Homo sapiens: one gene and its partners. The protein of the gene in region 3 interacts with the protein of the main gene of each other region in a biochemical or structural test. Each region holds a gene or a part of one and is shown on either strand. Other genes may lie near its edges.

Evidence for each region. Proteins that work in one complex are often made in the same cells at the same time.
Region 1: the proteins of ZNF451 (region 3) and SUMO1 form a complex in vitro, tested with the Homo sapiens proteins (one study listed by BioGRID).
Region 2: of the proteins of ZNF451 (region 3) and PML, one has a biochemical effect on the other in vitro, tested with the Homo sapiens proteins (one study listed by BioGRID).

What each region holds. Positions count from the first base shown.
Region 1 is NC_000002.12:202,228,598-202,232,097, forward strand, and holds part of SUMO1 (small ubiquitin-related modifier 1 isoform a precursor), read right to left. Parts: intron 3,448-3,500; exon of another isoform or gene 3,051-3,447; intron 1-3,050. UniProt on the Homo sapiens protein: Ubiquitin-like protein that can be covalently attached to proteins as a monomer or a lysine-linked polymer.
Region 2 is NC_000015.10:74,018,716-74,022,215, forward strand, and holds part of PML (protein PML), read left to right. Parts: intron 1-3,500.
Region 3 is NC_000006.12:57,145,688-57,149,187, reverse strand, and holds part of ZNF451 (E3 SUMO-protein ligase ZNF451), read right to left. Parts: intron 2,099-3,500; coding exon 495-2,098; intron 1-494. UniProt on the Homo sapiens protein: E3 SUMO-protein ligase; has a preference for SUMO2 and SUMO3 and facilitates UBE2I/UBC9-mediated sumoylation of target proteins. Plays a role in protein SUMO2 modification in response to stress caused by DNA damage and by proteasome inhibitors (in vitro).

The sequences.
Region 1 (3,500 bases), on a different chromosome or scaffold from region 3:
AAAAATACAAAAAATTAGCTGGGCGTGGTGGTGGGCGCCTGTAGTCCCAGCTACTTGGGAGGCTAAGGCAGGAGAATGGCGTGAACCCAGGAGGTGGAGCTTGCAGTGAGCCGAGATCACGCCAATGCATTCCAGCCTGGGCAACAGAGCAAGACTGTCTCGGAAAAAAAAAAAAAAAGTCACTCCAAGCTTCAAATTCTATATATATCAATTTATTTTATTTCCTAATGAAGAAAGCTCAAAAAGGGTTAAACAGGATAATTCTAATGCACCATTAAAAGGGAAAAACCGAGAATTACAGTGAAGTCACTTCCCTTATACTTAAATAATTTACCACAATTCCATTTTATTTATTTATTTATTTTGAGTCTCGCTGTGTCACCCAGGCTGGAGTGCAGTGGCACGATCTCGGCTCACTGCAAACTCCGCCTCCTCAGTGGCTGGGACTACAGGCGCACACCACCACACCCAGCTAAATTTTGTATTTTTTCATAGAGACAGGGTTTCACCATGTTGCCCAGGCTGGTCTCGAACTCTGGTGCTCAGGCAATCCGCCTGCCTCGGCCTCCCAAGTGCTGGGATTACAGGAGTAAGCCACTGCACTGGGCCCACGATTCTAAAAACACAAAAATATATGTATATTTTCATCTTCATGATGCATATGTTCAAACTTAGTAAGACGGTACTAGAGATTTAGAACAGAACTGACCAGATTTAACTGTATAACTTCAAGGTTTAGGTCAAAGCTGTCAACACAATGGGCCTCTGAATATTTACATTCAACCCTGAATGGTAGTTAAACACTAGTCATGCACAGATAGCTTCTCAGGAACTCAAAACTATAACTAAAAATTTTACTGGTTGTGTAAACCTTACCCTTTGAGTCTAGACCTATGCTAAGCCTAGAACAAACCAGTTTGATTGCATCCAAAAGTACTAGCAAACAGACTTGGAAGTATGACAGACATTGTTAATTACCTATCTGGTATCTATTTTCCCTTTCTTCCTTACAAAGGGAAACCTAAATTTACCCAGATAAAAAACGTATTTCCCAGCTTCTTTTATACCCATTTTGGCCAAAGAGATATAAAGTGAACATACTTTTTCCCTTTTCTCCTGTCTGGAACACAAAGTAGCTTTTTTGTGCCCACAAGTAGACAAGCACCAGAGTGAAAGACTGCTGTTAAGGATGGAGAAGAAAATAATATGAAGGAACTGTGGAGCTACCACATCAGCCTTGAGCTACTTTTGTCTACATTTCTTGTTTTATGAGAAAAAAAAAATTGTTTAACCTACAATAAATCAAACTTTCTGTTATTCAGCCCAAAAGTAATCCTGAAATAGAAGGTGCTATAAAAGGTATAAGTTTGGCTCATATTAAAAACAGGTGCTAGAAAATTCCTCAATGGGCATCAAAAGCAGAATGAATAAGTAAATTGAGTGTACTGCATTCCACACAATGGAAAGCCACACAGCAATGAGATGTAATAACATACAACTATATACAATAATAATGAACAAACCTCTAAACAGTGCCGGGCAAAAGAACCAACACACAGAGATACATACTGTATGATTTCACTTATAAAATGTTATGCTGTATAAAAACAGACAAAACTATTCTACTTGTTAAGTCAATACAGCAGTTCTTCATCTGAGTGCTGGTTGCATGGATGTGTTCAGTTTGTGAAAGTTCGGCAAACCAAACACTCTTGTGCACTTTTTTGTATGTATATTACTCTTTGGTAAAACCTTTAAAAATAACTGGCCCTAGATATTGAGAACAACCAGCCCAGCAAACAAAACTCCACCCTTCCTTCCTTCCTTCAGGTCTTTTCCTTCAGATCCTCATTAGCTCAGAAAAGGCAACTGAATGCAAAAATAGCCAAAAAATATAACCGATACAACGTATCTTTAAGTAAACATAGTCACGTTGCAGGAATTATCCAGATTTTAAACTGTAAAACTAAGGTGCTCAATAACAGTATCTGTGTGAACTTTTCCCCATGACTCTTTTAAAAAGAAACAGAATATCAGCCGGGATGGCGCAGTGGCTCATGCCTGTAATCCCAGCACTTTGGGAGGCCAAGGCAGTCAGATCACCTGAGGTCGGGAGTTCGAGACCGGCCTGACCAACATGGAGAAGCCCCATCTTTACTTAAAAAAAAAAAAAAAAAAAAAAATGAAATTAGCCGGGCGCAGTGGCTCACGCCTGTAATCCCAGCACTTTGGGAGGCCGAGGCAGGCGGATCACTAAGTCAGGAGATCAAGACCATCCTGGCTAACGCAGTGAAACCCCGTCTCTACTAAAAATAAAAAAACTTAGCCAGGCGTGGTGGTGCGTGCCTGTAATCCCAGCTACTCAGGAGGCTGAGGCAGGAGAAATGCTTGAACCCAGGAGGCAGAGGTTGCAGTGAGCAGAGATCACGCCATTGCGCTCCAGCTAGGACTCTGTCTCAAAAAAAAAAAAAAAATTAGCTGGGCATGGTGGCACATGCCTGTAATCCCAGCTACTCGGGAGGCTGTGGCAGGAGAATCGCTTGAACCCAGGCGGCAGAGGTTGTGGTGAGCCAAGATGGCGCCATCGCATTCCAACCTAGGCAACAAGAGCGAAACTGTCTCAAAAAAAATTAATTAATTAAATTAATTAAGTAGAATATCAGCATTATATATATATACTTTTTTAAATCACAACTTCAGGGAATTCCAAAATGGAATGCTAAAGATGTCTTAATAAAAAATTAACTGGGCCAGGCACCGTGGCTCATGCCTGTAATCCCTGCATTTTGCAAGGCCAAGGCAGGCGGATCACCTGAGGTCAAGAGTTCAGGACCAGCCTAGCCAACATGGTGAAATCCCATCTCTACAAAGATCAAAAATTAGTTGAGCATGATTGCAGGTGCCTGTAATCCCAGCTACTTGGGAGGCTGAGGAGGGAGACTCACTTGAACCTGGGAGGCGGAGGTTGCAGCGAGTCGAGATGGCACCACTGCACTCCAGACTGGGTGACAGAGCGAGACTCCGTCTCAAAAAAAAAAGATTATCGGCCTCTCTTCCTTTATCTGCCATCATGGTGTGTGCTTGACTCCACTTCTCGCCATGTCTTCTCACAAGACTTTCAGGGTTAAGTGATTCCTGGCCAAGAAACAAAAGCAAAATTGACCCATTCCCCAGTGGATTCGGATGAAAACTGGTAATAAAATCAGGTAAAACTCCAAAAGGAGCCATTGGAGAAGAACCAAGCTGGGTCTATAAGGCATTGCATGATACAACATACTTATGCTGTCTGAAGGTCACAATCATGTTACCATATCGAGCTGAAAATGTCACCACTATCTAGAGAGTTGGACATGTTTTATTGGGAATATATTTTTTTCTCTGAATCTGTTATGAACGTGTTGGTTGGCTAGGTTCAGTAATAAATATGTGAGACCTTTCATTTTTTAAAAAAAAAATCATCCTTAACAATCCCAGTGTCCTGGAAGAAGTAAATGATTCAA
Region 2 (3,500 bases), on a different chromosome or scaffold from region 3:
GCTAAGATAGAATTATGCTATTTTTCTTTCTTAATTATTATGTAATCTAGCCACTTTGGTGAGCAATTTCTTATTAAGTTAGTGGTGTTTTTGCTTATTGTTTTGAGTATTCCAGAAGCAAATAGATGTTATTTCGCCTTTCTGAAGATACGGTTAAGTCTGGGTTCTTGTCACGGAGCCCTTCTGGGCAGTTTCCCACTTCACCTCTGCCTCCTCCAAAGTGCCAAGCACGCAGCAGGTACTCAGTGAGTGTCCTCTGAATGAAGGTAAAGGAACCGCTTGGCTAAGGTCATTCCTGGCCCTGGGTGGCAGCCCTTTGATTCAGGATCTGCACCTCAGTCTTACCAGAGGGCTGGGGGCTTTTAGACCCAGGTGTCTGATTCAGGCTAGCCACCTCACAGACACTTGCCGCCCATTTCCATCTAGAGGGAAAGCAGGGGCCAGTCACCCTAGGGAGACCCCATTCAGGACAAAAGAAGCTTAGAAAAAGGACCCAGCGGAGGCTATGGCCATCCAGAACGTCTTGCTCTCTATCCAGCCAGGCTGCCTGAGGCGTGCCCTTCCAGGCTTGGAACCCTGTCTCCAAGGAAGGGGATCCAACATCAGACACAGCCCCTCTCCCCAAGTGTCCAAGATCCAAAGGGGGAAAATAACAACTGTTTCTTATTCTCTTCCCTTTATTCCTATACCCTATAGAATTGCCCACATTTATTAGTATTCTGTTTTTTAATTTCAAAAAAAGGAATACATTCATACATTCACAAGGCTCAAACATAATCTAAAAAGGTATGCAGTGAATGTCTTACTCTACCCTCATTCCACCCATCCCATAGCCACTTTTATTAATTTGCATGTCCTTTTAATATTTATTTATTCAAATACAATCAACTATGAAGATATTCTTATTTTTCCCCATTCTTACACAAAAGGTAGCATCTGATACACACATTTCTGCACCTTGATTTCTAACTTAAAATATATATCATAATAATACAAATAGTTAGCATTTATTGAACACTCATTGTATGCCAGTCATTTTTCAAACTTTTATCCATATATTAACTCATTTAATCCTTCCAGTACTCCTATTATTAACCTCATTTCTCCATGGAGAATTTTCCTTATCAGTATATAAAGAGCTTCCTCAATGGCTTACAGCTACATAGTATTCCGTTGTATGGGTGGATCATAATTTATGTAACTAATTGCCTTGTGAGGGACACGTGGGTGGCTTCTAATTCTTTGCTATTGTGGACTGTGCTGCAGTGAATATATTGTATGGATATCATCTTGTTATGTGTAGAGATAGAGCTGCAGAGCAGATCCAAAGAAAGAGGATTGCTGGGTTAAATGCATTTGTAATTCTGATGGGTATTGCCAAATTGCCTTCTGTAGAGTTATTAGTTCTTTTCATAATTGCTTAGTATTTCTAATTAAACGTAGCATTGATGAGCACTATGTATCAGTCTGGCTGGCTAGTAGGCTCTCTGTTGGTGGTTCCAGAACAAGTTGATCTCAGTGTAGTCCCAGATGAGACCCTTTCTTCTGGCCTCAGGTGGGCTGACTTATTCCTTTTTTTTTTTTTTTTTTTTGAGATGGAGTCTTGCTCTGTTGGCCAGGCTGGAGTACAGTGGTGCAATTTTGGCTTACTGTAACCTCCACCTCCTGGGTTCAAGCAGTTCTCCCACCTCAGCCTCCCAAGTAGCTGGGATTACAGGCGCACACCACCAAGACTTATTCTTATCACTGCCGGTGAGAGTAAATTACAGCAATATTTCTGGGGAACTAACAGTATTTTCCCTGGTAATATTTGAAGAAGCAGCCTTGTAATGGTTAAGAACATGGACTCTAAGCTGGACTGCCTGGGTTTTTATATTTTCTTTCGCTGCTGTAACAAACTACCACAAATTTAGGGGCTTAAAACAATGTAAATGTATTCTGTTATGGTTCTGGAGGTAAGAAGTCTGAAACAGGTCTCACTGAGGTATATAAAGGTGTCAGCAGGCTTTGCTCCTTTGGGAGGCTCTCAGGGAGAACGTTTTCTTGCCTTTCCCAGCTTCTAGAGGCTGCCCACATTCCTTGGTGCATGGCCCCTTTCTGTCTTCAAAGCCGGCAACATCACAACATTCCCACCTCTGCATTCATCACATCACATCTCCTCTCATTCTCCTGCCTCCCTGCCCTTTCCTTTGAAAGGATTCACGTGATTACGTTGAACCCACCCAGATAATCTAGAATAATCTCTTTATCTCAAAGTCCTTAATTGAATAACACCTGCAAAGACCCTTTTGCCATAGTAAGGTGACATATTCACAGGTCTCAGGAATTTGCACGTGGACATCTTTAGAGGCCACTATTCTGCTACTACAGTTTGCATCTAGACTCTACCACTTACTAATCGTGTGATCTTGAACAAATTATTTTGCCTCTTGCACCAGTTTTCTCATCCTTAAAATGGGGATAATAATGGTATCTATTCCACTGGATTGTCAGGAGGATTGAATGAGTAAATATTTGCCAATGCTTATAATAGTATCTGAGACACAATAAATGCTATGGAAGTATCTGCTAGCTAAAATATATTAACCAGGCCAGGCACGGTGGCTCACACCTGTAATCCCAGCACTTTGGGAGGCTGGGGCGGGTGGATCACCTGAGGTCGGGAGTTCAAGACCAGCCTGACCAACATGGAGAAACCTCGTCTCTACTAAAAATACAAAATTAGCCGGGGTGGTGGCGCATGCTTGTAATCCCAGCTACTCGGGAGGCTGAGGCAGGAGAATTGCTTGAACCCGGGAGGCAGAGGTTGCGGTAAGCTGAGATGGTGCCATTGCACTCCAGCCTGGGCAACAAGAGCGAAACTCCATCTCAAAAAAAAAATAACCAAATAAAAATATTAAAATACAAACACTTTGATCTAGCAGGCCTATATTTATAATCTATTTCATAGGAACAAAAGCTTCCATGATTAGGCTATATAACTTGGATATTACTAAAGTGTTGTCCATATTGGCACCAAAAGAAAAAAAAAAGGAAAGGAAAACGAAAGAAAGAAAATGCACAAACAGGAAATTACCTGAATGCCAGCAAAACGACAGTGATTGAATCAATTGTGGCCCATCTGGGATATACCAGAGCTATTAAAGAGAATACATCTGATCTGTGCCTATGCACCTAGAGGAATGCTCTGAGTGAAAGTTCGTTGAGAGGAGGAAGTTCAAAGTAATTATATGACTTGATTTATTTCTTTCTTTTTTTTGAGACGGAGTTTTGCTCTTGTTGCCCAGGCTGGAGTGCAATGGCACCATCTGGGCTCACCGCAGCCTCCGCCTCCCGGGTTCAAGCAATTCTCCTGCCTCAGCCTCCTGAGTAGCTGGGATTACAGGCATGCGGCAACACACCCGGCTAATTTTGTATTTTTAGTAGAGACGGGGTTTCTCCATGTTGGTCAGGCAGGTCTTGAACTCCCGACCTCAGGTGATCCTCCCGCCCCGGCCTCC
Region 3 (3,500 bases):
TTTAATTGTATGTTAAAGCTTTTCTTCCAAGTTAATCATAACAAAAATATACAAATGCTGAAATGACCTTTAAAATGTCTCACACTAAAGAATATGGCCAAATAGAAACAAAAAGAATTCACGTGATTTATCTTTTTAGTTAACCCAAATATTACAAGAAAAATCTAAATGATATTAATACTAGGATAACTTTGAAATCTAACTTTCAGAAAAACTATCAACTTCCTTCATCTTCAAAATCTCCACACCTTTTGTAAAATAAAATGATATCTAAAATATATATTATTTAAAGCCAACATATACTCTGTCCTCGTAAGTTTAGAAAGTGGATAAATGTAGTAGTAGGAATACAAACCCCTAAAATGTATATACCATAATAATTAACATACCATCAAGAAGTTACCCTGTTTCTTGCTTCAAAATTGAATCGAGGTGGGTACATTGTAAGTTTCAATATCAGTATATGAAATTTGCATAGAGCTATAAAGCCATACCTATATTCTGATAGCTTAGGTCATTCTCAACTCCTTTCTCCATGTCTAAACTTTTTGAATAGTTTATTGCCTGTTTCAGTTTTCTCTCTGTATGTGAGGCACTAGCAGTAAACTTGTACAGGTTTGATTTTTCAGATCCAAAATGAGCCACACTGGGTTTCTGTAAGAAGCAATGTTTTCTATGGAAATGCTGCTGTGCACTCTCAGGATCATGAAATGCTTTGGTGCAGGTGCCACACTTGATTACATACTGCTGCTCCTCCTCATCACTCTTTTCTTTGTGCACTTGATGGATATGAGTGTTCATGTCGGTTAAATTCTGTGCTGTTGCCGAACATAAACTGCAGCGAAACCACAGTTTTCCTTTATCCAGCATGATTTGGAGACATCTGCTATAATCTTCTTTTCTGTTGACTTTACAGATGTAACTCTCACGGCAACCACAAGTTAACTGGTTACTGGTCTCTATTACTGGAAAATCATCTTCGGTTTTAATTGAAGTTTCAGTTTTTTCTGACACAAATACATAATCTATGCTGTGGTGCTCCTCATAATGACTCAGAAATGCTTCTTCCACATTAAAGATAAGATCACAAAGCCCACAGAAGTATTTAATCTTTATCTCATTGTCATGCTCATCTTGGCAATGTCGGTACAATGTTTCTATCTTATGAAAAGGCTTTCTGCAGTGAGCACAGCTGTATCTATGAAACTTGTGGCTTGCCAAAGACATGCAGTGCTGTTTTACATATTCCTGGGAATCAAACATATCTTCACAAATCCGGCATTGCCATTTACCCCTCGGAGAACTATTTGCCGGGGAATGATCAATAACAGTAATAGCTGATGAAGGCTTGTTAGCAGTCAAATTATCCAATGTTGTAGAGGATGATGGCAAAGTTTCACCTTCTACCTCATCCATCTCATAAAAATATCTGTGTCCATTATGAAATTCAGTCACATGTGCCATGATAGTATCTTTCCTTGTTAACTCCTTTTTGCATGTCCGACACCAGAAAAGAAAGTTATTTAAATGTGCCCCTCCGTGAATCCGGCTCATGTGTAAACGAATGACCCCTGAATCATCACATACCTTTCCACAGACCACACATTTATAACCCATTGTGTTTGCTGAGAAAACATGCTTTTCTACTGCATCTTCACTTGGGAATCGCTGATTGCATTCACAGAACCAGGTTTTAACTACTGATTTTTCTTTCTGGACACAAGCAACACCTTCATGGCTTTTATCTTTTAAATTCATCTTCTTTTTTGGAATGGCAATGCACTCCAGTGAGCTAGATTCTTTAATAGACATGGTTCTTTTAAGTGATGAAAATTTTGATTGATCCAACAATAAATGCAAGTCAGAAGAAGGATCCTTGTTCCCTTCGCTGCTGTGGCAATAGAGTAAGACTGATTCTTCCACTGAGTTAATGACTCGGACTTTGTGTCCTGAATTCTGCTTATGATTTTGGGTGCTGGTTTCATCCACAAAGACTTGATTGCAATCTGGACAATAACCTCTTAATATGAATTTCTCTGCAACCTGGGTAATGCTCTTCTCAGCTACAGCTACAGGTCCAGCATTTCGACAATGAACTCTAAATTAGATAAAAAGAAATAGAAAGTCTTTCAGAAGTATTTTCTAAATATACCATTGCTGCATTTTATTGCAGGAATTATAAAATAACCAACGTATAAATAAGCACTAAAAGATACTTTTCAATAAAGATGCAAATGACATAATGATGTTCTATCATCTCAAAATACTTGAGTATTATCTGCACTTTATCTATTTCTAGTTAAAATACAAAAGGCTAAAACTAGATTCAAAATTTTTTAAATTCAGGCAAATTTTAGAAAACTAAAATCTGTATCAAAAGCACTGACAGAGGACCTTATTGAACAGGCAAATTATTAGACTCTCCATGGTAATTAAACTGTATGTAAGAACACTATGGTTAAGATTCTAGACAACCCAGTTCCTATTCTTTAATAACTGATTAATGTTGATACTATAAGGCTATGGTAACCAAAACAACATGTACTGGTATAAAAACAGACACACAGATCAATGGAACAGAATAGAGAACCCAGCAATAAAGCCACATACCTACAAACTACTGATCTTTGATGAAATTGACAAAAATAGACACTGGGGAAAGGACACCCTATTTAATAAATGGTGCTGATAAAACTTGACAGCCATATGCAGAAGAATAAAACTGAACCCATATCTTTCATCATATACAAAAAATAACTCAAGATGGATTAAAGGCTAAGACCTGAAACTATAAAAATTCTAGAAGAAAACCTAGGAAAACCCCTTCCGGACAATGGCCTAGGCAAAAAATTTATGACTAAGTCCTCAAAAGCAAATGCAACAAAGCCCTAAAATAGACAAATGGGACTTAAAAGCTTAAGCATAGCAAAAGAAATAATCAAGAGAATAAACAGACAACTTACAGAATGGGAGAAAATATCTGCAAACTATGCATCTGACAAAGGACTAATATTCAGAATCTACTAGGAACTTAACAAGAAAAAAATCCACAAATAATCCCATTAAGAAGTGGGCAAAGGACATGAACAGACATTTTTCAAAAGAAGACATACAACTGGCCCATAAATACTCAACATTACTAATCATCAGAGAACTTCAAATTAAAACAATGCGATACCATCTTACACCAGTCAAAATGGCTGTTATTAAAAAGTCAAAAAACAACTGATGTTGGCAAGGATACAGAGAAAAGGGAACACTTATACACTGTTGATGGAAATGTAAATTAGTACAACCTCTATGGAAAACAATATGGAGCTTTCTTAAAAAACTAAAAATAGAACCGCCCTTTGATCCAGCAGTCCCACTACTGGTATCTACCTTAAGAAAAAGTAAGCATTATATCAAAAAGACACCTACACTTGTACATTTACCGCAGCACTATTGACAATAGCGATAATGAATGGAATCAACCTAAGTGTCCATCAATGGATTATTGA